Homo sapiens: one gene and its partner. The protein of the gene in region 2 purifies or fractionates together with the protein of the main gene of each other region. This does not show direct contact. Each region holds a gene or a part of one and is shown on either strand. Other genes may lie near its edges. The genes, in order: TBL1XR1 and USP44.

What was found.
Region 1: the proteins of USP44 (region 2) and TBL1XR1 purify together in Homo sapiens (affinity purification with mass spectrometry; 2 studies listed by BioGRID, with this or other methods). This does not show direct contact.

Annotation. Positions count from the first base shown.
Region 1 is NC_000003.12:177,179,085-177,195,468, reverse strand, and holds part of TBL1XR1 (F-box-like/WD repeat-containing protein TBL1XR1), read left to right. Parts: intron 1-16,384. UniProt on the Homo sapiens protein: F-box-like protein involved in the recruitment of the ubiquitin/19S proteasome complex to nuclear receptor-regulated transcription units. Plays an essential role in transcription activation mediated by nuclear receptors.
Region 2 is NC_000012.12:95,524,405-95,540,788, forward strand, and holds part of USP44 (ubiquitin carboxyl-terminal hydrolase 44), read right to left. Parts: intron 11,023-16,384; exon of another isoform or gene 10,969-11,022; intron 10,783-10,968; exon of another isoform or gene 10,723-10,782; intron 9,923-10,722; 5' UTR 9,853-9,922; coding exon 8,425-9,852; intron 5,655-8,424; coding exon of another isoform or gene 5,565-5,654; exon of another isoform or gene 5,327-5,564; intron 4,599-5,326; coding exon 4,403-4,598; intron 385-4,402; coding exon 276-384; intron 1-275.

The DNA of each region.
Region 1 (16,384 bases), on a different chromosome or scaffold from region 2:
TGGGATTGTATGTTCTCACCATTTTAATAGTTTATAGTCTGGGGAAGTAGGGCACCTTTGTCTCCCCGAAAACATGGTGTGGGTTGGGTGGTATCATGGGAGTTGATGGCAAGCTTCCCAAATAGTTGAGAGTTCTAGAAATAGTTAGCATTTACCTGTGGGGGAGGGGCTGCAGGAAGAAAGTATGCCTGAGAGCAGTTAGGCGTGTGATGTGTGATTAGGCTTCTTGCTCTTAAATCCAGGTTTTCTTGTTTGGAATATGATTTTTTTTTTCAACCCTATCCTGCACTGAGATGTATGTAATCGCAATCATTAAATTCATAAATAACTACTATTTTTTTTGACGTTTGAGTTGTTGGAATCCGACCTACAGGACAAAATACTAAACTGTATGGGGGACGAAAACTACGTGCCTGGGAAAAGTTTTTCTTATTGCTAAGGAACTTAATAAAGTGACATGTTAATGGCATAAAAATTGTTGCAAAGCTCACCGTCAGTTTATGACATTTTTCTTTTAACGTATACCAGCTTTGGGTATTAATGTGGGAGACACTGGTGGTAAATGGAGTGACCCCTTGCAGAGATGATATTTTTGCATTGGTTGCTTCAAAGAAGTGTTAAGCATTTTAATACGTATGTCTAAGAATCTTTTTGATATTTGTATTCTCGACACCTAATTAAAGGTTTTGCATGATTACCATGACACCAGTCTCCCGAAAGAATTAGAGGTAACTGCTTCCTGTGTTCTAGGAGCCTTTCAAGCTAACAGAAGGTAATATAAATATAAGGGGTACTGATAAAAGGAAATGTATTAATAGACCTTTTGAACATCAACTTGTTGATTAAATCTATCAGTGCAGTATATATACAACCTTGTCAGACGAGTAGCTGACAAAGGAATCTCCCTAGTACAACTTGTAGCAGTACTATTATAAAGAATTCCTGACTTGACACATTTTGATGAAGTTGGTTGAAATAATTTGTTGGGTTTGTTCAATTTTTGGTGTCATTTATATAAAAAGAATAAAGAAGAATGTGAATGGTAGGAAGTCAGGGGAGAGGCATGGCAGAAACATTGGTATTCACTAGAACTTGTATTTTTCTAGTGCATGTGAATTGGACTCATTTCACAAATAACATTTACAGTATAAGTCACTGAAATGCAAAAAAGGAAAGCAGCTAACACGAGACATTTATACTTTATGCTCAGACATTCTGGTAGTAGAGGAGGGCTAGGACCCTAGAGCTGTGTAGTAAAGAATTGTTGAGTATCGTTCAGTTTAGGTACCACGAAGGTGGTATCTCCTGCTCTGCCACCAATAGAAACTTGAAGTTAAAAAGAAAAGACTCTGAGAGCGCTGATGCTGGAGAGATTTGGCTGTTTACCCCTCTGGGATTGGATTCGGTAAGAGTGCAATTAATTGCCCTGTAACCATAGAGCCAGAGGAGAGGGACTAGGTGCTCCGGGCTATGCTCTAGGAGGTGTGAGGTGCTTTCTATGCTGTTTATACCCTAGGCTAATCCTATGAGGTAGATAGTGTTGGGCTTTTTTTGTGGATGATGAAACAGAGATGCAAAGAAGTTAATTCCCTTGTTCAAGGCCACAAAATTATTAAATGAACACTAGGATTCAAACCTGGGTCTGTCTTAGATGACTGAATCTGCGGAATTTTCCCAGCTGTTTTGTTAGTCTTGATCCGTGTAGATCATCCTTCCAAAAACTTGTGTTTCTAATCAAGTTTATGATCTATAGTTGAGCGTCTGTACTAAATGGGTCGAGTGATTACATGGGTAAATGAAATTGATAGAACTCATATCATTGTGCTGAATTCCCTAGCACCATTTAATAAGATGCAGTCTTGCTGGGTGCAGTGGCTCACGCCTGTAATCCAAGCACTTTGGAAGGCCAAGGCGGGCGGATCACGAGGTCAAGAGATTGAGACCATCTTGGCCAGCATGGTGAATCCCCGTCTCTACTAAAAATACACAAATTAGCTGGGCGTGGTGGCGGGTACCTGTAGTCCCAGCTACTCGGGAGGCTGAGGTGGGAGAATCGCTTGAACCCAGGAGGTGGAGGTTGCAGTGAGCCAAGATCGCGCCATTGCACTCCAGCCTGGGCGATAGAGGGAGACACCCTCTCAAAAACAAACAAACAAAAAATTTGTGTAAGAAAAATCATTGAAGTCTTTGTGTTGTAGCATAGTGGTTAAAGTGAGTTCAAACTCAGGCTCTATCCTTTACTAGCTGTGATGTTGGGGTAGTAGCTCCTCATACGTTTTATTTATTTTTTAAAATTTTATTTTATTTTATTTTTTTGAGACGGAGTTTCGCTCTGTTGCCCAGGCTGGAGTGCAGTGGCGCGATCTCGGCTCACTGCAACCTCCGCCTCCTGGGTTCAAGTGATTCTCCTGCCTCAGCCTCCCAAGTAGCTGGGATTACAGGTGCTTGCCACCACTCCCGGCTAATTTTTGTGTTTTTAGTAGAGATGGGGTTTCAGCATGTTGGCCAGGCTGGTCTCGAACTCCTGACCTCAGGTAACGTGCCTGCCTCGGCCTCCCAAAGGGCTGGGATTATAGGCATGAGCCACATTGCGCCTGGCCCTAATGTGTTTGTTTCTTCATCAGTGTAAGGGGACAGTCAACTTTCATAGAGTTAAGAAGATCCAGTTAGTGTGTGAGAGGTACTTAGAACAATGGTTGACATTCTAAGCATCCTGTAAGTGTAAGTTGCTCCTGATAGGTTTGATTTTTGAAGTTTGTTTCTTTGTATTACATTTTATTTGCTTGTTATTTATTTTAGTAGGGGCATAATGTCATAGGAAGGATTTGATAGCTCCATTTCCTAAGTAACCCATTTGAAGTAAACTTAGCTTGGTTTTTTTTACTCTTAAAAAGTTGTGGTTTAAGGCTTACATATACTATGAATAATTTACATGATTGGTGTAGGTACGGTGGTGGATCTTTTTTGCATGCCTTTGTTGCTATTCTGTCATCTGGGTTGGACTTCTTAAGCCTACTTGCACCATTTGAAACATTTTTCAACTTACTTTCTTTCTTTTTTTTTTTTTTTTGAGATAAAGTCTCACTTTGTTTGTTGCCCAGGTTGGAGTGCAGGTTGGAGTGCAATGGCGCGATCTCCTCTTACTGCAACCTCGCGCCTCCTGGGTTCAAGCGATTCTCCTGCCTCAGCCTCCTAGCTGGGATTATAGGCATGCGCCACCACGCCCAGCTAATTTTTGTATTTTTAGTAGAGACGGGGTTTCACCATGTGGTCTCCATCTCTTGACCTTGTGATCTGCCCGCTTTGGCCTCCCAAAGTGCTGGGATTACAGGCGTGAGCCACCGCGCCCAGCTTCAACTCTTTTTTTTTTTTTTTTGAGACAGAGTCTTGCTCTGTCACCCATGCTGGAGTGCAATGGTGCGATCTCGGCTCACTGCAACCTCTGCCTCCCGGGTTCAAGCGATTCCCCTACCTCAGCCTCCCAAGTAGCTGGGATTACAGGCGCCTGTCACTTGCCTGGCTAATTTCTTGTATCTTTAGTAGAGATGGGGTTTCACCATGTTGGTCAGGCTGGTCTCGAACTCCTGACCGCCCGTCTCGGCCTCCCAAAGTGCTGGGATTACAGGCATGAGCCACCGTGCCAGGCAAACTCTTTAAATACAAAGGGAACTCTTTCAAGGTTTGGGTCCAGCAGAACCTAGGGTCTGCCTTTTAGGCTGTAGTGATTACTTTGGGTAGGTGGTTTTATTTTATTTTTCCTGACCACTTTTTATCTGTGTATTCTTTTCCGTATTATCAGATGCTGTCTAGATAGTTGTCCTTAGAAGTTCAGTTCCTCTATGAGCCTTATCTTATGTTCACTTCCCATTTTTAACCATACTTAATTTAGCACTAGTGTTCACTTTGCTAATAGTCAAAAGTTCTATGTATCAGGACTATACAGGTGCTTTGACAAGTACTGTGACAGTCTGAGTGCTGATGCCTGAATTTAACAGTGAGAAAATTGAGGCTCAGGTAGTAGGGGACAGAGCAGGAATTTAGGCCCAGTTTGTGTGAATTCTAGGCCAGTGTTGTTACCTAGCAGTCTGTCTTCTCAATGAATGAATGGTTGTAGGTCTGGATTATTAAGTTTTTATTTGGTTGCCCTGAGCAACCTTTCTTATTCATTTTATCTTCTGTAACTACTGACAGTGTAATTTATTTAAAGTACTGGTTTCATCTTGTCAGTTCCCCTGCTGGAGAACCCATAATGGATTCTCTTTGCCAACTGGATTGAATTTGTATGCTTCAGTCTGGCTTTTAAGAAGGTTCCATTCTACCTATTCAGCTTTATTTCTCACTCTTAGTTGGGATTCTTGCCGGCCTCTCAAATACGGTAGTTTTTGCCATACTCACTACTTTGCTTTTGTGCATGCTGTTGTTCCCTTTGTCCTTCTTATAGCCTAGTTTCAGTCCCCCTTCTTCCATGAATCCTTTTCTGGCCATCCTGACTCAGGATATTTCTTCTCTGAGATTCCATTGCACTTAATGAAGATCACAAATCCCATAACTGTTTATTGTTTTGTTGCCCCAACTACGATGTTTCTTGAACGGATGGACCTTTTTCCTTCCAGCATTTGGCAGAGTTCTTAATACCATTTTCATGTTAAAATGGATTGTGAGGGCCTGTGTTAAAATGGGAGCAGTGACAGCCCTGTTCCACTGTAATGTGGCAGCATCTTCTTTTTGAGTTAGACCTTAAAGATTTAGGTGTGCTATAGTCACATTTAACTGTTCATTTAAATTTTAGTGCTGCCAGAGTTGCAAAGGAAGAAAAATTTGTTAGTTTCTTAGATGAAAATGGATGGTTTTGACTGGGTACGGTGGCCCACGCCTGTAATCTCTGCACTTTGGGAGGCCCAGGCAGGGGGATCACCTGAGGTCAGGAGTTTGAGACCAGCCTGGCTAACATGATAAAATGTTTAGCTCTACTAAAAATACAAAAAATTAGCTGGGAGTGGTGGCACACGCCTATAATCCTAGCTACTCAGGAGGCTGAGGCAGGAGAATAGCTTCAACCCGGGAGGCGGAGGCTGCAGTGAACTGAGATTGCGCCACTGCACTCCAGCCTGGTCAACAAGAGCATCAACTCCGTCACATACACAAAAAAAGAAAATGGATGGTTTTGCCCTTTTAATTCTGGAATAGTAGCCACAGTACTGGGGGAAAACCTAGTCTAGTTAGGAATTGTGTCACAGTAAGTTGACTTTATCTGGTTATATATGTGTCAGGTAGTTAGGTATAATGATGCTTAAGATTTTGGACTCTTTTTTTTTTTTTTTTTTTTTTTTTTTTTGAGATGGAGTTTCACTCTTGTTGCCCGGGCTGGAGTGCAATGGCACATGCTTGGCTCACTGAAACCTCCGTCTCCTGGGTTCAAGCGATTTTCCTGCTTCAGCCTCCCCAGTAGCTGGGATTACAGGTGTCCGCTTACACGCCCAGCTAGAACTTTATTTTCTTAATCTGTTAGGTTTTTTCTTCATTATTTCCTTAGTAGTGTACCTAAGTTAAGATAGTGTTTTTAGATCTCACTGTTTTACAGCATTCTGACTGCACTGGAGTTTCATTTGAGCCATTACTATTAATTTATTAACATTCAGTATAGGATATATGTATTATACAATGTAAGTGAGTTTTATCTACCAGAAGAATGTCTCTTAACCATCTCCCTTCAGTAAATTTTTATGGTAAGACTGTGCTGTATTAGTTCCAGCCAACCAGGGTAATTGACTATAAAGGCAACTAATTTGGTGTTACATCCTTCTTTTTTTTTTTTTTTTGAGATGGAGTCTTGCTCTGTCTCCCAGACTGGCTGGATGTGATCTCCGCTCACTGCAACCTCCGCCCCCTGGGTTCAAGCGATTCTCCTGCCTTAGCCTCCCAAGTAGCTGGGATTACAGGTGCTGGCCACCACGCCTGGCTAATTTTTTTGTAATTTTAGTAGAGATGGGGTTTCACCATGTTGGCTAGGCTGGTCTTGAACTCTTGACTTCAGGTGATCCACCCACCTTGGCCTCCCAAATTGCTGGGACTAACAGGCGTGTACCACCACGCCCAGCTAATTTTTGTATTTTTAGTAGAGATGGGATATCACCTTGTTGGCCAGGCTGGTCTTGAACCTCTGGGCCTTGTTATCTGCCCACCTCGGCTTCCCAGAGTGCTGGGATTATAGGCGTGAGCCACCACACCTGGCCTGAAATTGTTATTTCTTATTTTTATTTTGAGACAAAGACTCATTCTGTTGCCTAAGCTGGAGTGCAGTGGCATGATCTTGGCTCACTGCAATCTCCACCTCCTGGGTTCAAGCGATTCTACTGCCTCAGCCTCCTGAGTAGCTGGGACTACAGGAACGTGCCACCATGCCCGGCTAATTTTTTTGTATTTTTAGTAGAGATAGGGTTTCGTTATGTTGGCCAGGCTGGTCTTGAACCCCTGACCTCGTGATCCACCCGCCTCGGCCTCCCCAAGTGCTGGGATTACAGGCGTGAGCCACCGCACCCGCCCAAAATTTTTAATATTTATGTATAGAATGTAAGCTTTTCAGCATGATTTTGAATCAAACAAAATGAGTTAGATTGAAAGCTCTGCTTTCTGAGAGCTTAGATTTGTAACTCAGAATTAGTGTGGACTGTAAGGATCATGCTGAAAGGTTAATACATTTTGGTAAACATAGAGTACCCAGATTCAGGAGATTTATGTGAAATGAATAGGTTTGAGGGATGAGGGAGGAGGAATACCTGTTGAACATTTAAACTGTGAAGTTTGCCACCTATTTTCCCCTTTATTGAAGGTTTCAGGAGGTAGAATTTAAAAAAACAAAACTCTGGGCTGCAAGGGTCAGAGATGGTCATTACGGTATCTTAATAGAGTAATTTCTTTTTTTTGACGGAGGTTTGCTCTTGTTGCCCAGGCTGGAGTGCAATGGCGCAATTTTGGCTCACTGCACCCTCCACCTCCCAGGTTCAAGCAGTTCTCCTGCCTCAGCCTTCTGAGTAGCTGGGATTACAGGCATGTGCCACCACACCTACCTAATTTTGTATTTTTAGTAGAGATGGAGTTTCGCCATGTTGGCCAGGCTGGTTTGAACCTCTGACCTCAGGTGATCTGCCCACCTTGGCCTCCCAAAGTGCTGGTGGGATTACAGGTGTGAGCCACTGTGCCTGGACAGTAATTCTTTTTTATATGAAATTGTATTCTCTGGGCCGGGCACGGTGGCTGATGCCTGTAATCCCAGCACTTTGGGAGGCCGAGGTGGGTGGATCACGAGGTCAGGAGTTCGAGACCAGCCTGACCAACATGGTAAAACCCCGTCTCTACTAAAAATACAGAAATTAGCCGGGTGTGGTGGCATGTGCCTGTAATCCCAGCTACCTGTTAGCCTGAACCTGGGAGGTGGAGGTTGCCATGAGCTGAGATCGTGCCACTGTATTCCTGCCTGGGCAATAGAGCGAGACTCCATCTCAAAAAAAAAAAAAAAAAAAAAAAAGGAAATTGTACTCTGGACTCTCAAGCTTTTTTTTTTTTCTTTTTAAATGTTTAAAAATTTTAATTACCTTAAAATGGTGGATTTTTTTTTAACTTTTTAATAAACTAGGTGTCAGTCTATTTGATATCTTCGGTATTTTGTCTGAGATCGGATGTGGAATCAATAAGTGCTTTTTTTCCTGATAACCTTTTGTGTTTCTCTTTTCTTCTCATTGTGTCTTTTTCAGCACAGTGGAGAGCGGGACATTGTAAAGAGACATTCAGTGACTCAGTTTTTGAGTGGATGCTTTTGTTTTTTGTTCTTAGTTTGCATCTGCTTGAATGGGGTAGCATTTTAACATGGGTCTAATATTAAGCAAACAAGTATTTTTAAACCAATTCTTTGTAAAGCCATGGTTACATGAGTAAATCACTTAGCTTCTATAAATGTCTATTAAGATGATCAGATGAAATGTTACCTGAAGTTCTCTTATTTGTGCAAATACTTGAATGAGTATACTCGATACTTCAATTCCTTTATTAAGATCCTAGGATTCTTTTTTTTTTTTTTTTTTGAGATAGAGTCTCTGTTGTCCAGACTGGAGTGCAATAGCACAATCTTGGTTCACTGCAACCTCTGCCTCCCGGGTTCAAGCGATTCTCCCTGCCTCAGTCTCCCGAGCAGCTGGGATTGCAGGCGCCCGCCACCACACATGGCTAATTTTTGTATTTTTAGTAGAGATAGGGTTTTGCCATGTTGGCCAGGTTGGTCTCGAACTCCTGACTTTTTTTTTTTTTTGAGACAGAGTCTTGCTCTGTTGCCCAGGCTGGAGTACAGTGGCACGATCTCGGCTCATGGCACACTCCGCCTCCCGGGTTCATGCCATTCTCCTGCCTCAGCCTCCTGAGTAGCTGGGACTGCAGGGGCCCGCCACCACGCCCGGCTAATTTTTTTGTGTTTTTAGGAGAGACGGGGTTTCATCCTGTTAGCCGGGATGGTCTCGATCTCCTGACCTTGTGATCCGCCCGCCTCGGCCTCCCAAAGTGCTGGAATTACAGGCGTGAGCCACCACGCCTGGCCGAACTCCTGACTTTTAAGTGATCTGCCAGCCTCAGGCTCCCAAAGTGCTGGGATTACAGGTGTGAGACACCACGACTGGCCATGATTTCAATTTTATGAGTTTTGACGGGGATCTATATGGAAATTTTTTTTAGAGTATTTAAGTACTAAAAATCTACAGCCTTTCATAGAGTAATAGTCTGGAAAGTATGTGACATGAGCATAAGCAAACACCTTGCCAGATGGGGTATAGTAATAACATATTTTAGTGGTTACCTTCAACTGTGAATAGAACACAGTTTATGGGTTAGGGAGAGATGTTTTATTCTCTTCCTTTAATTTCAACAGGCTAATTGGGAAGAGTGTATACTAATGTTGCTACATTTCTGTTTAGTGGCTATCATATGTCATTAACTCACAGTATAAGGCAATTGACTCATCTACTTTGGGTTTCTGAAATAAGGTAATGAGAATAGATAATGAATTTATCTTTTCTTTTTCTGCAATTACCTTTTTATGGGGCAGAACTTATAAAAAATAAGGATTTTAGGATACGATTTGTAGCTGTAGCAGTGCTCTTTGGCACTCATTCATATAACAATGTAATATACATGCTTAAGATTTTTCCCCTAGTAAAATGATGGGTTTTCTTTAAATTACTGTTCTCTGTCCTCTTTAGTAACGGATATACATTTGTAAAATTACAGACTGGGGTTAGGAGTGCAGACTGTTATTGTATTGTGTTCTTGTGCAAAAAAACCCCAGGTGTATCATGGGAATACATCTTTGACCTTGGACTTCCTTGTGTCCTGCTGGCAGAGGTCACTAGTTTTGACACCTGGTGAGAGATGTGAAGTGTTCCTTTATTTACTTATATTTATTTATTTATTTATTTGAGGCAGGGTCTTGCTCTGTCACCTGGGCTGGAGTGCAGTGGTGTGAACATGGCTCACTTTACCCTCCAACTCCTGGGCTTAAGCAGTCCTCCTACCTCAGCCTCCTGAGTAGGTAGGACTACAGACGAGCAGCACCATGCCCAGCCAATTTTTTTATTTTTAATTTTTTGTAGAGAGAGGATCTCACTATGTTGCTCAGGCTGGTCTCGAATTCCTGGACTCAAGCAGTCCTCCTGCCTCCCAAAGTGTTGGGATTATTGGTGTGAGCTGCTGTGCCCAGCCAATGCTTCTTTTATATATTTATTTAGATTTGGTGTTTGATTTTTTTGTTAATAAGGGACCTTCTCAAAGATACTTTTAAATGAAAAGACAAAGGGTCAGAAAATACTGGTTTTTTTTTTTTGGAAACAGTCTCATTCTGTGACCCAGACTGGAGTGCAATGGCGTTGATCTTGGCTCACAGTGACCTCCGCTTCCTGGGTCCAAGTGATGCCCCTGCCTCAGGCTCCTGAGTAGCTGGGACAGGCTCATGCCACCATGCTTGGCTAATTTTTTTGTACTTAAGTAGAAATGGGGTTTCGCCATGTTGGCCAGGCTGGTCTTGAAATCCTGACCTCAAGTGATCCATCCTCCTCGGCCTCCCAAAGTGCTGGAATTACTGGCGTGAGCCACTGCCCCTGGCCGGTTGGCTGCTATTTTAACTTAAGGGGTAGAAGACTGGAAAGGAGGACACATGCAATACAGTGTGTATGAGTATGTGTGTATTTATATATGCTTGTTGTGTGTGCTTAGAGTGACTCTAGAAAGCTGTGGAAGAGACTGATAACAATGCTGTTGGGGTAGGTAGATTATGTAGTCAGATGTCAGAGAGACTTATTTTCATGTGTAACCTTTTGAACTGTTGATGTTCTTATTACCATTTTGAAAAAAAAATTGAAAAATCGAGGCATGTGGTTAAGCTTTTAAAAACTTTATTTCTTTGGATTTGGATAGGATGGTCAAAAGAAGGGGGAAAATGATGTTAATTTCTCCTGTGCTTTTCAGTCAGTTCTTAAAGAGCTGTAACTGTATATTTCTGTAAACACTTATTTTCATTTTTCAGACTTGTTGGCAGAATTAGAGTAGTGGTATGATTAACAAGTGTTGTTTCTGTTTCATGACTGGGTCCTTAGACCAGTGGTGAATCAGTGATGATTTTTTTTTTTTTTTGAGCCACAGTCTTGCTCTGTCTCATCCAGGCTGGAGTGCAGTGGTGCGATCGGCTTACTGCAGCCTCTGCCTCCAGGGTTCAAGTGATTCTCCTGTCTCAGCCTCCTGAGTAGCTGGGACTACAGGCATGTGCCACCATACCTGGCTAATTTTGTATTTTTAGTAGAGACGGGATTTCACCATGTTGGACAAGCTGGTCTTGAACTCCTGACCTAAGGTGATCCACTGGCCTCTGCCTCCCAAAGTGCTGAGATTACAGGCGTGAGCCACCGCACCTGGCCAACTGGTGAATTTTGAATCCTATCCAAGCTTGATACTTAGAAAATAATTTAGTGCAAACTTTAGGAGGTTTTGGTTGTCCAGAAGTACTACATTTTGTCTTATTTCAAAGGTATTGCTTTGCCAAGGGTTTGGACATTAGGTGAATATTGGGGTTCTCATAGTGGTTGACTTTAATAATTATAGTATTTGGCACAATGGGATTTGTGGAACTATGGCTTCTGATACTGCACCGATCCTGTCATGACTTACAAACTTAGATGTATGTGTTATTGATGTCAAGGTGACAGATATATTAGATTTTAATGCTATTTTTGGTTGCAGTTGGTGTCATTTGCAATTGTGTCACTTGCAGCTTTTTGTTGGCTATTTAGTTTACCAGTAAAGGGGCTTGCCTTCTAGTTGTGCTCATTTTCAACTTCAACTGGAGCAACCTCAGAGAAAGGGAGCACCTGTTTTGGTGCACAGAATTGTGCTGCACTGTGACTTTGACACTAGCCTTCCTTTGAGGGCACTGTCATGGCCCTCTTCTCAGCAGTAACAGGAGACTAGGTAGGAGAGTCTTTGTCTCATTTTTGGCAGTGAACTCTCAGTATGTTACTGTGGTGAAGAGCTGGTCTCGAGCTCCTGACTTCAGGTGATCCACCTTGCCTTGGCCTCCCGAAGTGCTGGGATTACAGGCGTGAGCCACCATGCCCGGCCGATTAGATGTTTCAAGAAAAAGAAGATTGTACCTTTCTTAAAAATAAAGTTTTTTGGTCGGGCGCAGTGGCTCATGCCTGTAATCCCAGCACTTTGGGAGGCTGAGGTGGGTGGATCACCTGAGGTCAGGAGTTTGAGGAAAAAATTCGCAAGGTGTAGTGGCGGGTGCCTGTAATCCCAGCTGCGGAGGCTGAGGCAGGAGAATCACTTGAACCCGGGAGGCGGAGGTTGCAGTGAGCCAAAATCGCACCACTGCACTCCAGCCTGGGTGAAGGAGTGAAACTCCGTCTCAAAAAAATTTTTGCTTTCCGGAGTGGAATCCCTACTTTTCTCCAGGCAACACTGCTCTGGTTGACAACTGACAACTGCTTTATCAGTCACTTCAAATATATATGTTAAATTTTACACAAACGTTAACATGGATTCTCACTAAAAATCCATATGGCACAACACAGGGTATGTATACATGCAGAAATAACTGAAGGGTTATCAGGAACTTATGCACACACATTTTCTGTACTCTTCATTTAAAAACATGCTTTTATAAACCTAAATGAATTTTATTACTTAATTTTATTCAGTGAATTTAGAAAATACTCGTTCAAAGGAGTATAGAATTGTACTTTTCTACTTTTATGGATTTAGAGTCAGTACTCAGAAACGTCGACGTTCTGAATGACAGAGCATGGATGAGTTACATTTATTGGTGCTAATGTCTTTAGGTTGTATTCTGAAGCTGTATGAGGATTCTGAAGTTATGGTGCCTCAATTTTGTAAGGCATACATAAGAAGTAAGATACAAATGATAAGGAATTTTGATTGCTCTTAAATGTAAATTTAAGAGTTTTGGAGGGAAAATCTGAACAGCTGTAGCTTAGGAACCCTGAATGCTTCTCATAAAGGACAGTACTTAGAAGAATGACCATTATATAAAGTTTCTTATATCCCATTAGAGAAGAAGTTTGGATAATTATATTGTTTTAAAAAAATTTACATGCCATAACATGTTGCCTGCATGAAGTTACACTATTTGATTGAAGATTAAGCATTAGGCTTCTTTCCGTGACAGTCTTAAATTAACATCCTTGCCAATGATGACCACTAGTCATGTGTTTCTAGCACAGGCCTCTCCTTGATTGAGAGTTATTTGTTGCCTCATCTCACTAGGCAGAGATCCTTCCTTGAAAACAGGTCTCTCTCACCCATCTTGACCCTCAGCATCTGGTACAGTGCCTGGCACTCTTTAGCCTTTCCATTGTTGAGTTGAATCCTATGAGGCTCTGACTGAGGTATACGTTTGCTAGTACAGTAGACTCTTGTTGCTTTTGTGAGTGATTCACATATACAAAACTGGAAAGGAGATACATCCAGTTTCACAAATTAATTGTCCTTAGAACTTACTGTGTTCCTGCTGTCAGAGTTTTCTTCTTTTTCTGAGACAGGATCTTACTCTGTCACCCAGGCTGGAGGGCAGTGGCACGGTCATGGCTCACTGCAGCCCTGAACTCCCCGGGCTCAGGTGGTCCTATCACCTCAGCCTCTTGAGTATCTGGGACTACTACGCCACCATTCCCGGCTAATTTTTGTGTTTTTTGGTAGAGATGGGGGTCTCACTATGTTGCCCAGGCTGGTCTTGAACTCCTGGGCTCAAGTGATCCACCTGCTGTAGCTTCCCAAACTGCTGGGATTACAATAGGCATGAGCCACTGGGACTGGCTGTGCTGTAAGAATTTTGAGGGTCTGCTTGATAACCTGGCACCCTGCTCTTTGGTTTTTGTCATCTGCAGAATCCTTTTGGCTTGAAAACAGTGTAGAACTTGCTAGGGGAAACAAGGAATATACTCAAAATGTGGGTAAAAGATTCAAAGACCTTGGCCTGACCGTAGCAGTTAAACCTGAATTGGGGTGTTATTTGGGCTTGCCCACTTCTTCCTGATATTTATGTATTCTGCAGTCTCTTTAGACCCTTCATCATGTGTGTGTTTTTTTTTTTTTTTCCTAACTTGAACCCTTACGTTTACCTGATACTGGCATATGATTCTTGCCTGGCTTTTTTTCTGATTCATGGTCTTGCATACCCAGTCCATACATCTACTGCTGCCCTTCTCTTTGACTGTGGTTTTCCCTCAGAGGTCAAAGGATGTGTATACTCTGTGTCCTTTGTCTCTTTAAACCAGTTGCACAAGTGATTCTGTGGCCCAGATTGGTTCTTCCGACCTCCTCCTCTCCTGATCTGCTAGCATGGAATCTATCACAATCTAGCATGGGGACATCTTGTATTTTCCCGTGTTTTCTACTGTTGAGTGTAGGCTGGCAGAGGCGTTCTTTTTTTTTTTTTTTAAGACGGAGTCTGGCTCTGTCACTCAGGCTGGAGTGTGGTGGCATGCTCTTGGCTTACTGTAACCTCCACCTCCCGGGTTCAGGTGATTCTCATGCCTCAGCCTCCTGAGTAGCTGGGATTATAGGCGTGTGCCACCACACCTGGCTAATTTTTGTATTACTAGTAGAGATGGGGTTTCACCGTGTTGGCCAGGCTGGTCTGGAACACCTGGCCTCAAGCGATCCACCCACCGTGGCCTCCCAGAGTGCTGAGATTACACCTGCGCCAGTTCAGATTTTCATTTAATGACAATGAGTTGCGACAAGACAGAGTTGGAGAATAGAGGAGGTTCAGAGTTGGAAGAAATGGGAGTAGGTGATGGCAACACCGAGTTGTCAGAGTGAGCTGAGGCAACATCCTCTACTTCTAGCTCACTGATGAAAATATCCAGGATAGCGGGTCTGGGGTCCAGTGCCATGGGTCACGCCTCTAATCCTAGTACTTGGTGGTAGGCCGAGGTGGGTGGATCACCTGAGGTCAGGAGTTCAAGACCAGCCTGACCAACATGGTGAAACCCCCGTCTTTACTAAAAATACAAAAAACTAGCAGGGCGTGGTGGCCTGTAATCGTAGCTACTCCAGAGGCTGAGGCAGGAGAATCCCTTGAACCCAGGAGGCAGAGGTTGCAGGGAGCTGAGATCATGTCATTGCACTCCAGCCTGGGTGACAAGAGCAAATCTCCGTCTCAAAAAAAAAAAAATTCCAGGGTAATCTGAGATCTTGGTATTTAGAGACATTTGGTTGGGATGAGGGGTCTTGGTAGATTTGATTCTGTTATCATTTGGAACCTTCCAAAGTAGAGGATGACGCATTTGTTTTTGAGCTACTTTCTAGAAACCAGAATTTACTGTCAGAGAATATAGGATTTTCGGTTTTAAAACTTTGAACTTAAAATGATTGCAACAGTATTTTAGTGATATTCTAAAAAATATTTAAAAATAAAAGTTTAAAAAAGTCGTCAGCAGATTAAAAAAACTCCAAGGAGAGTAATATTTAAATGAGTAACATTTTTGTTTTCCTCTGAATGTTGTTAAAACAGACAAGGTACTATTAAATGGGGGGGGGGGGAATGAACGTATTTATGGGCTTTTCCCTTTTTTACCCTTTGTTTACTTGTCTGTAGATTAAAGTAGGTACTTTAATCTTTTGTATCTCTGGGCTCTGTTTCTTGTAGTGGGTATGCTTTTTTTTTTTTTTTTTTTTTTGAGACGGAGTCTTGCTCCGTCACCAGGCTGGAGTGCAGTGACACGATCTCAGCTCACTGCAACCCACGCCTCCCGGATTCAGGCAATTCTCCTGCCCCAGCCTCCCAAGTAGCTGGGATTACAGGCACGTGCCACCATGCCTGGCTAATTTTTTGTATTTTAGTAGAGATAGGGTTTCACCATGTTGGCCAGGATGGTCTCGATCTCCTGACCTCATGATTGCCTGCCTTGGCCTCCCAAAGTGCTGGGATTACAGGCATGAGCGACTGCACCCAGCCTGTAGTGGGTATGTTTTTTAATTTGTTGCTTCTCTACTTGGTTTGTTCCCTTTTTTGTGTCAGATATGCTGGTGAATCTAGCTGCCTCATTTTATCTAGCCTCATTTGCCTTTCTTGCGTTTTCTTCCAGATGATTCATGTGTATTTTGCTAGTAGATATATCGGTTGGTTGGCTCCTTTGTTCTGACAAATCAACATAGAAGTGACTTGTTACAAGTGAGAACTGGTAATGACAGGAACCATAACAGCATGCTAATGGTCTTTGATAAATATGGTGAATGCACATGGTAGAATTTAAAGGTCTTGGTTTGAAGCCCTCCCAAGAGTAGTTGCAACTTTGAGGTTGGGTTTAGGAATAACTTCTGCAACCTTTAGCTTCACTCCTGGGAGAAACTTTGGATACATTTTACCTGCCTCTCTTGAGCTTCAGTTCCCATATTTGCAAAATGCCATGACTTATCTCTTAAGAATTTAGTTAGAATAAAACAGATACCGTAAGTTAAAAGAATACTTGGTTGTGCTCCAGCGTGTGTCTGTATCCGGAATAGGCTCATATGTAATTGGTAAATACGAGAATTATGTCAGTACAACAAGGAGATTGCTCTGGTTCATACGTGATTTTCCCCAGCATATTCATGTTTTGCATCAGGTAACAATAGTCGAGCTCAAAGTACACTAAGAGCTGAATGAAACAAGCCATGGTGGCCACTTGTGAATTCTTCCTGTTGGCCTAGTTTGGCCATGTTTTTAGTCTTTGAAGTTTTTGGAGGGGGTTGTTGTGCGATTCTCCCCCATCTCTTCACAGCCCCAAGTATCTTTTTTTTTTTTTTTTTTTTTTTTGAGACGTAGTTTCGCTCTTGTTGCCCAGGCTGG
Region 2 (16,384 bases):
GTGGATCGCTTGAGCCCAGGAGTTTGAGACCAGCCTGGGCAACATGGTAAAACCCTATCGCCAGCCTAGGTGACAGAGTGAGACTCGATCTCTAAATAAATAAACAAATAAGCAAATGTAAGTCATTTACTAGCCAAGTATATGATATTAAAAGTTAATTCATTTGTCAGAAAGGTGATTAAAGTAAGGGGAAAAAATTATAACATGCATTCTTTAAGTTTTGAAGCATTATAAGCACAAGGAATGATAACTTTGCAACTGGTCCTACTACAGACCTGAATCGTTTGAGGTGCAGTCTGAGAACCTGAGGTAGGTGGCATATCATAAGTTGTTTCTGGGCTTCTGTGAGTACAACTGGTTTGGAGGAAAACCTTCTACGCTTTGCTGTAACATCAAAGAAAGAATAAAAATCAAATTTCATTTAAAGATTCAGGGAAAAGCTGAGTGAACCTTCTTTTTAATTAAGTCAGAAATGAAAAGTATGTACTGTGTTCCAGGCATTGTACTGTGCTAGAGATAGACATGGGCTTTGCCCTCAAGAAACTCATGATCCACAATTAACCAAAAAACTTAGGAGCTAGTCAAGTTAGACAGATCTGTAATCAAGTACATGATTTAATAATAATCTTGCATATAATGTGATAGAACAAAGTATACTGCTATAATATTTTTATTTATTTATTTAGAGACAGAATCTCACTCTGTTGCCCAGGCTGGAGTGCAGTGGCACAATCTCGGCTCACCACAACCTCCGCCTCCTGGGTTCAAGCAATTCTCCTGCCTCAGCCTCCCATGTAACTGGGACTATAGGTGCGTGCCACCATGCCCGGCTAATTTTTGTATTTTTAGTAGAGACGGGGTTTCACTATGTTGGCCAGGCTGGTCTCGAACTCCTGACATTGTGATCCACCTGCCTCGTCCTCCTAAAGTGCTGGGATTACAGGCATGAGCCACTGCACCCAGCCATAATAATATTTTTAAATGGAACTGGCTATACCAATTAATAGGAAAAGTTACAACATTCCCTAAACATTTTAATATACATTTCCCAAACTCTTAATTTAAAAGTTTGTGGTCAAAAGATTTAAAAAAGAAAAAAGAAAAAAAAAGTGAGTGGTCAGTTCATTTACCAAGGCTAGTCAGAAACCCAGAGGAAGGTCCTGATTGCCCAGAACATCCCTCCACTTTTCCTGGGGACCACCTCAGCCCTGGCCAACGGCCTAGGAAAGCAGGACTTTACCAGTTCTGAGGCCTCCCTCACTCAAGCGTTTTGCTTTTGCTCTTTTAGCACTAGATCTTAGACAGCTGGAACTCAGGATTCTTCTTGTTGTCCCTTCTGCTTCCCTAGAGGTCCACCTATGGACTGTCCTGGAGCTGGGCCATCAGCTACAGTTTGCTCCTGATGTCCAGGAGCTATCCTTCAACTTGTACACCAGCTCCGACTCCAGCCATGGCAGCAGCTGCTTCTCATGTGGGAAGCAGGCTCAGTCCACCATGAAGCTGAGCTCTAAGCCACCTTCGCTGGCCTTTCTTCCAGGTGTCTAACCCTGCGATCCAGGTATCTGGCTGCTGCTGAATGTCCTGGACCTACCTCTGGATTGTCTCCTAGCACATCGGTCCAAGGGTAGCCAGATAGGGGATATCAACTCCTCGGCATATAATTGTAAACATTTGCACTGCTGTGTTAAAGCAGCTCTTTTAGGCCTGTATTTGGTAGCTTTAGTAAACACATAGAAATTTGCTATAAAACCATATTCTGCATTCATAACATCACCCCCAAATTTGGTGATGAAAGCATTTGGCACTCACCACATTTATGTCCAAGAAAAAATAATACTTCATCATAACAACTTTGACAAAGATTTATTTTTTAAAAAAACCTTATAGGCCGGGCGCGGTGGCTCGCGCCTGTAATCCCAGCGCTTTGGAAGGCAGAGGCGGGTGGATCACGAGGTCAGGAGATCGAGACCATCCTGGCTAACACGGTGAAACCCTGTCTCTACTAAAAATACAAAAAATTAGCCAGGCGTGGTGGCGGGCGCCTGTAGTCCCAGCTACTCGGGAGGCTGAGGCAGGAGAATGGCCTGAACCCAGGAGGCGGAGCTTGCAGTGAGCCGAGACTGTGCCACTGCACTCCAGCATGGGTGACAGAGCGAGATTCTGTCTCAAAAAAACAACAAAAAAAAACCTTATAAATTTAAGGCTACTTTATGCGTTCACATTAGACAGCACTTATACAAAAGTGTTAAAGTCATTCCAGGAAACCATCAATTGATATAACATTTCTTCAATGTGGGAATATCCTATTTTTTGTTTACCTTAAAAGTTTAGTTATTTAAAGCCTTAGAATCTATTTGCGAGATAGGGAAATTAGGGAGAATACCTGAAAAAATATATATAGCATAGTATAAACTATAGCATAGTTTACTATACACTACACTATACTACACTATATGTTTATATAGTATAAATACTAAGATGCTATGTAAGTATATCTTATTCTTTTTTTTAATTTCAATAGGTTTTTGGGGAACAGGTGGTGTTTGGTTACATAAATAAGTTCTGTAGTGGTGATTTCTGAGATTTTGGTGCACCCAACACCTGAGCAGGGTACACTGTACCCAATGTGTAGCATTTTATCCCTCACCCCTCCCACCCTCTCCCCTGAATCTGTAAAGTCCACTGGATCATTCTTTTTTTTTTTTTTTGAGACAGAGTCTCGCACTGTTGCCTAGGCTGGAGTGGAATGGCGCGATCTCGGCTCACTGCAACCTCCCCCTCCCAGGTTCAGGTGATTCTCCTGCCTCGGCCTCTTGAATAGCTGGGATTACAGGCGCACGCCACCATGCCCAGCTAATTTTTGTATTTTTAGTAGAGATGGGGTTTCACCATGTTGGCCAGGCTGGTCTCGAACTCCTGACCTCAGGTGATCTGCCCACCTCAGCCTCCCAAAGTGCTGGGATTACAGGTGTGAGCCACTGTGCCCAGCCCACACTCGATCATTATTATGCCTTTGCATCCTCATAGCTTAACTCCCACTACATATACACATCAACAGAGGAAATAAAGACACAGTAGATGTTTTTGTGTGTTTTTTTGAGACAGAGGCTTGTTCTGTCATCCAGGAAGGAGTGCAGTGGCACGATCTTGGCTCACTGCAACCTCCGCCTCCTGGGTTCAAGAGATTCTCCTGCCTCAGCCTCCCAAGTAGCTGGGATTACAGATGCACTCCACCACACCCGGCTAATTTCTATATTTTTAGTAGAGATGGGGTTTCGCCATGTTGGCCAGGCTGGTCTTGAACTCCTGACCTCAAGCGATCCACCTGCCTCGGCCTCCCAAAGTGTTAGGATTACAGGCGTAAGCCACCGCACCTGGCCAACACAGCAGATCTGATGTGGTTTTATACACTGTTTCCTTGGAGGAAGATGCTTTTTTTTTTTTTTTTTTTTTTGAGACAGAGTTTCACTCTTGCTCAGGCTGGAGTGCAGTGGCACAATCTCAGCTCACTGCAACCTCTGCCTCCTGGGTTCAAGCAATTCTCCTGCCTCAGCCTCCCGAGTAGCTGGGATTACAAGTGCGTGCCACCATGCCCAGCTAATTTTTGTATTTTTAGGAGAGACGAGGTTTCACCACATTGGCCAGGCTGGGCTTGAACTCCTGACCTCAGGTGATCTGCCCACCTCGGCCTCCCAACGTGGTAGGATTACAGGCGTGAGCCACTGCACCTGGCCGAAGACGCTTCTCTTTTAACTGAAGTGGCTGTTTCACCCCCAGTGTCAGGTTCCTGTGCTCTCCTCCATTAGAGCACTTATCATAGTGGATCCTGTCTATCTGCTTCCTCCATTAGGAATGTAAGCACCTTGACAGTATCTCACCTCTATCTATAGACACTGGGAATAACTAACACAGAAGAGACAGTGCATGGTTTTGAATAAATCTTTGTTTTGATGAAGCCAATCTCCACAGCAGCAGTCCTGCATATATTATTTCCTATTTTATGTATATAGACATACACACACGCATTTATCTACATATCACTTTGATATGTAGCCAAAAAAGCTCATAAAGCAAGTGTTTCATTCATGCTACATGACATGCTTTCCTTTCATTATTCCTCTTTGCTACTTTATTTTGCTCCACATATCATATTTAAACTTGTTATGAATCTTCTCTCTCCAAAATTGTCTACAAGATCAGAAACAATTTAAATTCCATCAATATGGCCAAACAAATGCATAGTTCATAAATGCCAATTATAAAGTGAAAACGTCTGTTTCTTTTGATGAACTGAAAAAAAGTTCATTTTCATAACTGCTAAAGATTTCTTTCAGCTTCCTCTCATCTGCGTTTCTCTTTATCATTCCTAGGAAAGCACCAAGAACACAACGTCTTTACTCACAGTTACACTGGTCACATACGTAGATTTTTCCTTCTAAAGCTTCAGTTTCTGTAAATTTGGCCAACATTTCAGTAACCAGACATGGCTGGGAAGCAATATCTTTTCCACTGCATTGATACCTTTCTGGAAACTCCAATGACAAGTCCCAGAAAGGTTCTATGGTATTTGATTTGTTGTCACATGCAAGACATGTAACCTGCAAATGAGAATATGAGTTCCTAAGATTATAATCTTTCCATCAAAACATTAACTCTTTTCACTAGAGGTCACTGCCACTAAATAAACTTTTCTCATGAAAATGCACCATTAGGATTCTGAATAATCTGCTTTATATTCTTGTCAGGAAATCTTTCATTATGATTTTTCCTTCCAAAAGATTGTTATCAGAGCCATCATGAATTGGTTGCTTTAACTACTGGGCATTCAAAAAGCTCTAAGGGCATTAAATTTAGGTAAAAATCCAAACTGTGGACACACTGAATAGAAACACACTATGTATACATATATACATATATACATATATCTATGTATACATAGATATATACATATGATGTACATTCACATGCATTAAGTTTAATGTATTTATGTCATTAGGCTTGAGGTTCCTCACTGTTTCTTTCATCTTTTTTTTTTTTGAGATGGAGTCTCGCTCTGTCCCCAGTGCTAGGGTGCAATGGCGCAATCTCGGCTCACTGCAACCTCTGGCTCTTAGGTTCCAGCGATTCTCCTGCCTCAGCCTCCTGAGTAGCTGGACTACAGGTGCCAGCTACCACGCCTAGCTAATTTTTCTATTTTTAGTAAACGGGCTTTCGCCATGTTGGCCAGGATGGTCTTGAACTCCTGACTTTAGGCGATCCGCCCACCTCGGCCTGCCAAAGTGCTGGGATTACAGGCGTGAGCCACCATGCCCGGCCTCTCCTTCATCTTTTGCTGATTTTTCTTCCTAACCCCAAATCCTATAACCTCTTAACCCAATCCAATCTTAACCATATTACAAGTAAAATACTATCTTTTCATTATGCAGATTTTAAGGCCCTGACAACTGATAATTTCAAAAGACAAGATATATGACATAAATAATGATGTCATACTCCTACTTAAAGCAAACATAACATTAAAATCCCCATCCAAACACAGAAAACACGAAAAACATGGAGCTGTTTTAACAACTTACATAGGCAATGTAGCAACCGGAAAGGAAATGAATAGTAACTTCAGTGAAACATTCAGCAGGATTTAATGCCAACAAACACTGCACATAATTGAAGACAGACTCCATGAACTAACAATTCACATATGATATGAAATATTATAAAGAACCTCTTTCATACAAGCTATAGTCCTGGCACAGGCAACAAAATAAAGAAGCCAGTTGTAATACAGATTTTAGATTTCACAAATTGACACAAAGAACTCTCCTGGCGTTTATAGTCTAAGGACTCAGTAGTGCCAGGGCCAGACATTTTGAGAATTTTCTTGAATTAAACAAAAAAAACAAAAACAAAAGCAAAAACACACAAAAAGCCATCCCAGTCTGGGTGTAGTGGCTCATGCCTGTAATCCCAGCACTTTGAGAGGCCAAAGCGGGAGGGCTGCTTGAGCCCAGGAGTTTGAGACCAGCCTGGGCAACACAGTGAGACCTTGTCTCTATAAAAAAAATAAAAAATAGAAAGGAAAAGCCATTACAGCAACCAACTGTCTTAAATCTCCTGAGAACCAGTTCCCTAAGAGTGTATTAAAGAAAGAGAAGCAAAAAGCTGGTACAATAATTTTTATTAATTTGAAAATACATTTATAAAGGAAAAAATAAGCACATAGCAACTTTCATACTACTGGAAATATAGATAGATAGATAGATAGATAGATAGATAGATAGATAGATAGATATAAAAGAAAAACACTTTCTGGAAAGAACTTTGTCACCAAGTATCAGAAGTCTTACTCTGACAAAGTCAACTTCTAAGACTCTGTCATAAGGAAGTCAGAAAAATTAATTGATGACATTATAATAATGAAAAAAATTAAAAACAGTCAACAATAGGGGAATGGTTAAGTTACGGTATAAACATACGATGTGGCCAGGAGCAGTGGCTCATGCCTGTAATCCCAGCACTTTGGGAGGCCGAGGCGCGTGGATCACAAGGTCAGGAGATCGAGACCATCCTGGCTAACATGGTGAAACCCCGTCTCTACTAAAAACACAAAAAATTGGCTGGGTGTGGTGGCAGGCGCCTGTAGTCCCAGCTACTTGGGAGGCTGAGGCAGGAGAATGGCGTGAACCCAGCAGGTGGAGCTTGCAGTGAGCCGAGATCGCGCCACTGCACTCCAGCCTGGGCAACAGAGTGAGACTCTGTCTCAAAAAAACAAAAACAAAAACAAAAAAAAACATATGATGTTAAATAGCAGACATATACCAAAAAAAACACACAAAAAAATTATGAACATTGAAATGTTTTGAAAAGAATGATGAAATATTTTTAATTATTGGAAAATAATTACAATATTAAATGGGAAAAGCAGATAAATGCAAAATGACCAATTATGGGAAAAAATATTTATACATGTGCAGGAGAAAAAAAGACTAGAAAATATACCAAAATATAAATAGTTTTACCAATGGATTGTGGGGTTATAGGATTAGAGAATGATTTTTCTTTCCTTCTATATAGATTTCCTATATTATATAGGTTTCCTGCAACTATATGTTGCACTCTGTAACAGTGTATTTTAAAACTTTTGCATAAAAAGGAAATGACAGAGAAAGATGGAGAAGTAAAATTGCAGTACAATTCTTATTTGCTAATTGACACAAAATCTTTGCATTTCTGAAACACTGAAAAATAAACTTCATAGATATTCCTTAAGAAGAATTACATCTGAAATACTTAAACAACATTTTAGGAAAGTATGCTATAAAAACAAAAGATGGCCTTATTACAATGCAAGTTGAACTGAAGAACAGAGGCAGGTGTGCAGGGGGAAGGAAATGACCTAAAAGCCTAATAGCCTCAGTTATAAAAAAAATTTTGTTTAAATTTGTGTGTTATGGGAAAGTAGAGAACCTTATGTCTATTAACAGTTCACCAATAAGTCCACTCAGTATAGAGAACCTTTACTTCGAAGATTCTGGTTTTATAGTCCACCTTATCATGACAAAGGAAACTTTTGAGTAGTAATTAAAATAAAGGAAAATCATATAAGATTATTCTAGATGAAATCACATTTGTTTACCTTAAAATTTCCCTACCTACTTGTTAAAGCTCTCAGACCATGACCCTTTGATTTTATAGGAAGTCCTCCAGGGCTACTCCTTGGTCCCTGAAATTGCTCAAGTGTGCACCATTTTCTTTCTTTCTTTGGGTTTTTTTTTTTTTTTTTTGAGACGGAGTCTCGCTCTGTCACCCAGGCTGGAGTGCAGTGGTGTGATTTCAGCTCATTGCAACCTCCACCTCCTGGGTTCAAGCGATTCTCCTGACTCAGCCTCCCAAGTAGCTGAGATTACAGGCGTCTGCCACCACACTCAGCTAGCTTTTGTATTTTTAGTAGAGATGGGGTTACACCATGTTGGTCAGGCTGGTCTTGAACTCCTGACTTCAGCTGATCTACCCGCCTTGGCTTCCCAAAGTGCTGGGATTATAGGTGTGAGCCCCCACGCCCGGCCATGTGCACCATTTTCATCCCGAGAATAGCAGCATCTTTAAATCCGTTCCCTCTGGGATTAAACCCTCCTCTTCTCAATCCCTCAGATAATGAATGTAATATTGGTAACCTAGAGAGCTCCGTCTCCTGATTTCTCCCTCCCTCCAAAAGCTTTTGCTACCATAGATGTAAAACTACTTCCAATGATTCATGAAAGAAGGAATTGAGTGAGCTGATTTCTCTATACATATTTATAAAAACAATCTATTTTGACCTGAAAATGGTACTAGCTCAACACACTAGATGTACATAGAATATGCCTTTTTATAGGCTACACTTTATGAACTCCCAATGATGAAAATAAGATTCTTAAAAATCCATACCTGACTAAGAAGTTGTCCATGAAAAATGTTATTTACAACATTCAGAACTTGTTTGATGAGTTTCCTTTGAGAAGTGGGGATAAGAGCTGGTAAACTGGTACCAGTTGTCTCTAATTCACGTTGTATTTTATCTAAAAGTTCACAAAGAAATTCCTGAGCGTCTTGTTGGGCGTAACCACGAAAGGCAGGAATGAGTCTCCACACTGAGTGTAGCATAGCAAATGGTGAGACCAACGCCCACTTTCCAGACCACATGACTTGGAACAAAGTATGCAATTCATGACAAAGAGAAATGTACTGTGAAGTTGGCTCCTTTGGCTGAATAAGTTCCATCTTTCTACCTTTTGATGCTCCACCACTTAGTCCTGATGACAGACTTGATTGTCTGGAGCAAACAAAACCTGTATCTTTTTCCTGACATTCATTCATTTGATATACTACTGTATCTGTGACTGGTGGATGCTTACAAGATCTTGTCTTCTCGCTAGCAGTCATAGCCAGCCATTGGTTCAGATCAAGCTTTAAAAAACATTGTCGAAAAATAAGTAAATGACTCAACACCTGAAGAACAGAATTCATATAGCAAGTATTTCCCAAATTTCTCAATCCTGTTACACCAGGAGTTACTATTGGCCTTCGTTTAACTGAGGAGTCACTGACTTTTTGAGATATTTCATTTTCTGAGGTAGAGAGTACTTTATCTTTTGCTGGTGATGCTGGCGTTTGTGCTGGCACCTGAACAGAAACTATTTCTATTATGGTCGACTGAGCGAGCCCTTGTAAACGTAAACTCTTTCTTGGAGGCATACTTTCCAATTCTGCTTTAACTTGATACTCCAATTCCTGCCGTCTTTTCTTTACTTCTCTTTTTACTACTATTTTTTCCTGAAATGGTTCTTCTTGCTTTTTTCTTCCAATGGGTGATTGTTCAAACCATGTTCGAAAGATTTTACCCATTAGTATCCTTCTCCTGTGCCAAAGAGCAGTATACAGTTGATCTTCACTTTGAAGCAGAGATTGGGCACCGTCATGTAAGAAATAAGAATCATCACCTGTACCCATGGACCGTAAAAACCTCCCACTACGAGTTGTGCAGTGATAATTTTGACTTTTGATGGCACTTAATGTACGTCGTAGTAACTTCAGGTCTCCAGTTGTGTTATCATTCAGAACATAATCATCACAAAGGTAACAAAAAACGTACATCTCATTCACCTCCAATGCAACAGGATGACTGCTTTCTTGAAAGTGCTTGAGTGCATGCTCTTCAATATATCTTCCACAGGCAACATGGGAGCAGCTAAGGCAAGCCCAAATGGACTCGGTCGTGTTGCAGTCCACACAGTGCCATTTCTGAGGGTTGAGGCTGGAATGGTCTTGAGCAAGCTGCAGCTGCCCAACATGTTTGCACGTATCCATTGCTAGCATTTATTTAGTCTAGCTGAGAAATGCATAATCCAAACAAGTCTCTGTTCACAACACTTGAAGCATCTGAAAACTAAACAGAACAATGTCAAGTGTTAATAACAAGATGCTAATATTTTTCATATTTTTTCCCAAGAATAATAAAGATTTGTGTCCTCTGCTCCCAATTTCTAGGCTGCTTATCATAATACCATTGGCAGTTCTCCCATTTCCCTTTCTCTAAACTTCCCTAACCTCACATCCACCTTGCTCTGAAAGCACAGACACTTCACTTTCTCTAATGAGGCGCCTTTAGCTTTTGTTTTTAACTTTCTGCCACCATCTAGTGGTGAAAAATGGGTAGTAATCACTTTCCACTGAAATAGCTTAAGATCTATCCTTTTTTACCCAGTAGTCTGAGGGCAGTTTCCAAAACTGCATTCCCTTTTTTTTTTTTTTTTGAGACAGAGTCTTGCTCTGTGGCCCAGGCTGGAGTGCAGTGGTGCGATCTCAGCTCACTGCAACCCCTGCCTCCTGGGCTCACGTGATTGCTGTGCCTCAGCCTCCCGGGTAGCTGGGATTATAGGAGTGCACCACCACATTCAGCTAATCTGTTTTTCGTATTTTTACTAGAGACAAGGTTTCGTCATGTTGCCCAGGCTGGTCTTGAACTCCTGAGCTCGGGTCATCTACCCGCCTTGGCCTCCCAAAGTGCTGGGATTACAGGCGTGAACCACTGTGCCTGGCCCCTTTTCTTAATGACAGGGGTTGGCAAGACCCAAATATATCTCACTAATATTTATAAACATTATGAGCCTTATGTGGAGTTAATAAAACATAATCAAAGATGAAAAGGTGAGTTTTAAGGCAGAAAAACATAGGTTTGAATTGTACCTTTGCCACACACTGTTAAATGTATGATTTTGAGCAAATGTTTTAACTTCTCTAAACCATCTGTAAAAGAGGGAAAATCATACCAACTTCAATTGAGTTGTTGAAGAACTGAGAGATAATATTTATCTGACACATGGTAAATGGTAGTTTTAATTGTATCTATAGTGAACGAATCTTATTACCCTATTTAAATAAATCATATTACCATTAAACTTATTTTTTTCCATTTGGTAAATCAATAATTACCTTTAATTCATGGCTCTATAACATACTCTGAGGCCGAACAGACTTGACAGTTGGCTTTAGGGAAAGAGAAAGACAGAAGAGGAGAATGTGCTTTTGTATTTGAATATTCTCAGAAACATACAAGGAAATAAAGAGAAAAAAAGGAAGAATATGAAGTGGGTGGCAATAAGCTTTTATTACATTCTAGCAGGCCTAAACCTATCTGAAATTATAAGCTTATTTTTTTAAAAAAGCTTATGTGATTTTTGACACAGAACTTGTTCCTTTATCAGTTAAAGTCAGGAACACTTCTGCTGTAAGTTATTTACATGTAATGAACAGAAATCTTATTTAAAAAGCCGTGATCACAAACACTTTTTTCATTGATTTAATACAAATCAAAGACAAATTTCAGGGTTTGGGTGGAGACCTAGTTACGGAACACTAAAAACACCCTATGTATCATGACCAAGGCATTAAATTTTTAGGGCAGTTGAAACTGTGAATTTCAACGGTACCTGCAAGTGCCACCTCCAGGCCTTAAGAAAACTGCAAAAGCAGTTGATTTTTGGTTCCTTCCCACCTCTTTTTGTAAAATCTCATATTCGTTCCTTAATTTTTAGGTATCAGGTACTGACCAGTCCCAAATCTCACATGTTCACATGTTTCTTTCTTTCCTTTTTTTTCCTTTTTTTTTTTTTTTTTTTTTGAGATAGGGTCTTGTTCTGTCACCTAAGCTGGACTGCAGTGGTGCAGTCTCAGCTCACTGCAACCTCCACCTCCCAGGTTCCAGCGATTCTCGCACCTCAGCATCCCCAGTAGCTGAGACCACAGGCATGTGCCATTACGCCTGGCTAATTTTTGTATTTTTGGTACAGACATAGTTTCACCATGTTGCCCAGGCTGGTCTTGAACTCCTGGCCTCAAGTGATCTACCCGCCTAACCCTCCCAAAGTGCTAGGATTACAAGCGTGAGCCACCGTGCCCAGCCCCCATTTCACACGTTTTAAGTGCACATTTTAAATTTACTCCTCTCTCTAAAAATTTCCAGAGGTTTAAAATCTGGTCAAATATGGTACTTTATTAGAACACCTAGGATTTGACAATAGTTGCTAATGGCAGAATTGAGACATCAGTGATTTATATATTCCACTATCCCATATCTTTCTGTACTGAGGCAAGAAACCTTAGAGTCATCCTTGACTCTCTCTCTCTAAATCAATCCTTCAGGAAAAATGATTGACTCTACCTCCAAAATATACTGAGAATCTGACTTACTTAGTGCCTCTACTGCCACCAGCCTGATCCAAGCTACAATCAAGTCTTACCGGGATTACTGCAGTAAGGCTCCCAGATGGTCTCTCCACTTCTGTCCTTACTGCCACCAACAGTCTACTCTCAACACACAGTAGCATGGTCTGCATCTAGACCTAAACAACCACTTTAGGGGATCCTTGCTGTGACCCTCCTCTATTAATGTGTAGTCAGCAAGGCCAAGGGCATGTGGCCACCTGAAGTCTGCACACACCAGCAACTCCCCTTCTAAGGCCACTCGCTGGTACCTGGGACTCAGAGAATTACTTGCCCTAATCATCCCCAAGCTTGCTTCTAGGGCCTATGAGCAACACAGAGCCACTGAAGAAATCTGTAGAGGAGAATGATATGATCAGATCTGTGGGTTACAGAGGGATCTGAATTACAAAGAGCTCTGGAGAAGGGACGAGTGATTAAGAGAGACTAGCAGTCCAGAAATTATAAGGAAATTAAAGCTGCAGGAGTATAGCAGTTTTGAAGAAGGGGGCAGAGGTAGAATTAGTGCTTAACAAACATTAGTTGAGAGAATTTACTCAATTTGGAGGTTAAGGGAAGGATCTAGGGCTCTGTATTACCTTTTATTCAAAATGATAAAATGAATACAGAGAAAATTTAGTTAAACATGTTTCTGGCAAACCATAGAAAATAATTTTTATATTATTTTATTTTTTGAGACAGAGTCTCACTCTGTCGCCCAGGCTGGAGTGCAGGGGTGCTATCTTAGCTCACTGCAACCTCCACCTCCTGGGTTCAAGCGATTCTCCTGCCTTAGCCTCCCGAGTAGCTGGGATTACAGGCACACGTCACCATGTCCAGCTAATTTTTGTATTTTTAGTAGAGACGGGGTTTCACCATGTTGGCCAGGCTAGTCTTGAGCTCCCGACCTCGTGACCTGCCTGCCTTGGCCTCCCAAAGTGCTGGGATTACAGTCATGAGCCACCACGCCAGGCCGAAAATAATTATTAGTTCAACATCCTTGCAGAGGTGAAGAAGGAAATGCCAGCAAAAAAGATCATTTCATTCCAAAATTTTAAAGACGTAGAATGAGTTAACACTTTCAGAAAAGGATCAGTAGGAAAAAGCCTGGTGAGAATACATTTATTCTGAGGTTACCTCTGGGTAATGGGACTGAAAATTACTGTACTTTCTTTATTAATCTATACTTTCAAAATTGTAAAAATAACATGTTTTAAATAAAAACAGCTCAGATAGTGTTAAGTATGTGCTAAATTGTACACTAACCTCTTTACTCCTTTCTCTACTCTGCAAATAAATTCCCTTGAATACAAAAAAAGTACCTGTTTCATTGAAGCTATTGCTAAAAAATCTATTTAGATAATAACAAAGTACTTGACCTTCAAAGGGAAGTGGCATCTATAATTAAACACATCATTCTATTTGATACAAAATTGTGAAAAGGGTGAAATCTTGATTAGATGTCATCTATCTGAGACATCATGGTAGAAGAGAGGGATTACAGTAAAACGGTGAGCGAGCACACACTGGAATCTAAATCCCCGAGTTTAACACTTGACAGGATTTACTATGTGACCATAAATTACGTGCTACATACCTCAGTTTTCTTATCTGTAAAGTAACAGTGGTAATAATACCAATAGGGTTGTTGAGGGAATTAACTTAGAACAACTCCTGACACTTAATAATATGGCCCTGAGTACATCTTAGCTGCCAATAGTAATAAAATAATAATAAATTATTATTATAAATGCTAGTTTCCTTCTAGTTGATCACTTTTAGCCAGGGATTCCTTCTTCTCAGCCAAATGTGTACTAAGCCCAACTAAGGTGCTAACAGATAATCAAGATGTTAGCTAAGAACTAAGGTCTGACCTCTCCCAGGGGAATTTGCATTTTAAAAGGGGGGGGTCTCTCAAAGATAAAATCTTTTTAAAAATAGACGTGAAACCAGAATAGTGGAATGACGGATCACGAGATTAATATTTTAGCTCAGGGGGCCCACTTACCCTGTCTACTTATGAAAGAAATCAGTAAGGGGTAGACGACAGAGGCAAGGGCACCGTGGAAAGCAGGAGCTGCAGAGCCAGGCTGCTGTCCCTAGAGATCTCCAGTAACTCAGACAGTAACTAGGGTATCCCCAAAGGGGTCTCATCACACAAAGATCTAAGAGCTTGGAGGAAAGAAAGGAGGATGGGAGTATTTTCTTGACACTTCCTATATTCCTCTACTGGGTTCAGAGCACCTCTTTTCATTTGCTAATCCACCGCTGTGAAGCTATGCATTCGCTCTGGCGTCAGCAGATTGGATGTATGATTTTTGGCAGTATATTCATTTTAAAGAGGTATTACCTGACAAAACATTTTTATATCCCTCATGCAGATTCTGACAAAATATTACCTGTACCAATATAATAGCACCTTACAAATAGGATGCTTGAAATGAAATCTATAAGGATTAAAACTATCTGTGCTATAATTCTCATGCATTTAAAAAATGTTTCACACTCCAAATTCAAATCAGTAGCTATCAAATGGCTTTTTTTTCTTTTTTTACCAGTGTGACTTGTCAATGAAATGGCTTTTTTTTTTGTTTTTTTTTTTGAGACGGAGTCTTGCTCTGTCAACCAGGCTGGAGTGCAGTGGCGCGATCTAGGCTCACTGCAAGCTCCGCCTCCTGGGTTCACACCATTCTCCTGCCTCAGCCTCCTGAGTAGCTGGGACTACAGGCGCCTGCCACCACACCCAGCTAATTTTTCTGTATTTGTAATAGAGACAGGGTTTCACCATGTTAGCCAGGATGGTCTCGATCTCCTGACCTTGTGATCTGCCCGCCTCGGCCTCCCAAAGTGCTGGGATTATAGGCATGAGTCACCGCGCCCGGCCCAATGAAATGGCTTTTTAAACACCAAGTATACTATTTTCATTTTTAAAGACAGATGTATTTACAAATATTCTAAAAGCTTTTTTGTCATTCTTCAGTGCAAAAAGACAATAAAACATTTAATTTGTTCAAACAAAGCCATTCAAGCTCTTCATACTTTTCACACCTATGACTGAGCATGCATTTTAAAAATTCCCTTTAGCAAATCTCTAAAGTTAAATAACTATATTTGACTTATTGAAAGCTAATTTTATGTAGAATTAGTATATCATTGAAGCACTTATTAAACAAAAAGCTAAAATGATTAGGAGAGAAATAGATGATCTTATAAGGGATTTTTAATCAACCGTTTATATCAAACTCCAAAATCAAATATCACAGGTAATATATTTAACTTGTTACAGTTCGACAGCATAAAACAGCTTATACTCACCACAGTGAGGACTCTCTGAAATTAATTTCTATTAACTCAAATTACAGCCCTTTGTAACCTACAACCCACAGTTTCGCATGTAGTGTAATACCTTCCTGTTGTATTTTTGTAGCTCTTCAAACCTCTTCTGATAATGAACTCATCCTACAGAGGTTCCAGCAGAGGTTTGATCATCAGTTCTAGACAGCTAACTACCCAGACTTTACCCTTAGCCCTAACCTTTCTGAACCAGTCTCAGGCACAACCCAAAGTCAGCTTACCTACGCAACTTACCTTCCCAAATTAGCTTTTTATCGGGTATTTTTCTCTAACAGATACTATATTATCATTCTAGGACCTAGGCTAGAAATCTTAAGGATTTTCTTTACTCCTCCCTTCCATCCATCTTTTTTTTTTTTTTTTTTGAGTGAAGTTTCAGTGTTTTTGCTCAGGCTGGAGTGCAATGGTGTGATCTTGGCTCACTGCAACCTCTGCCTCCTGGGTTCAAGTGATTCTCCTGCCTCAGCCTCCCGAGTAGCTGGGATTACAGGCACATGCCACCACGCAAGGCGAATTTTGTATTTTTAGTACAGATGGGGTTTCACCGTGTTGGCCAGGCTGGTCTCAAACTCCTGACCTCAGGTGATCTGACCACCCTCAGCCTCCCAAAGTGCTGGGATTAGAGGCGTGAGCCACCACACCCTGCTCTCCCTCCCATCTTTTTTACTACTGTATACTTAGGGTTATTGTTCACTAAGTCTCTATTACTTTTCATTTCCACAGCTATCACTCTAATGGATTTTATTATATTGTTCCTAGAGTACAATATTTTGGTAGCCTCCAAACTGGTCTC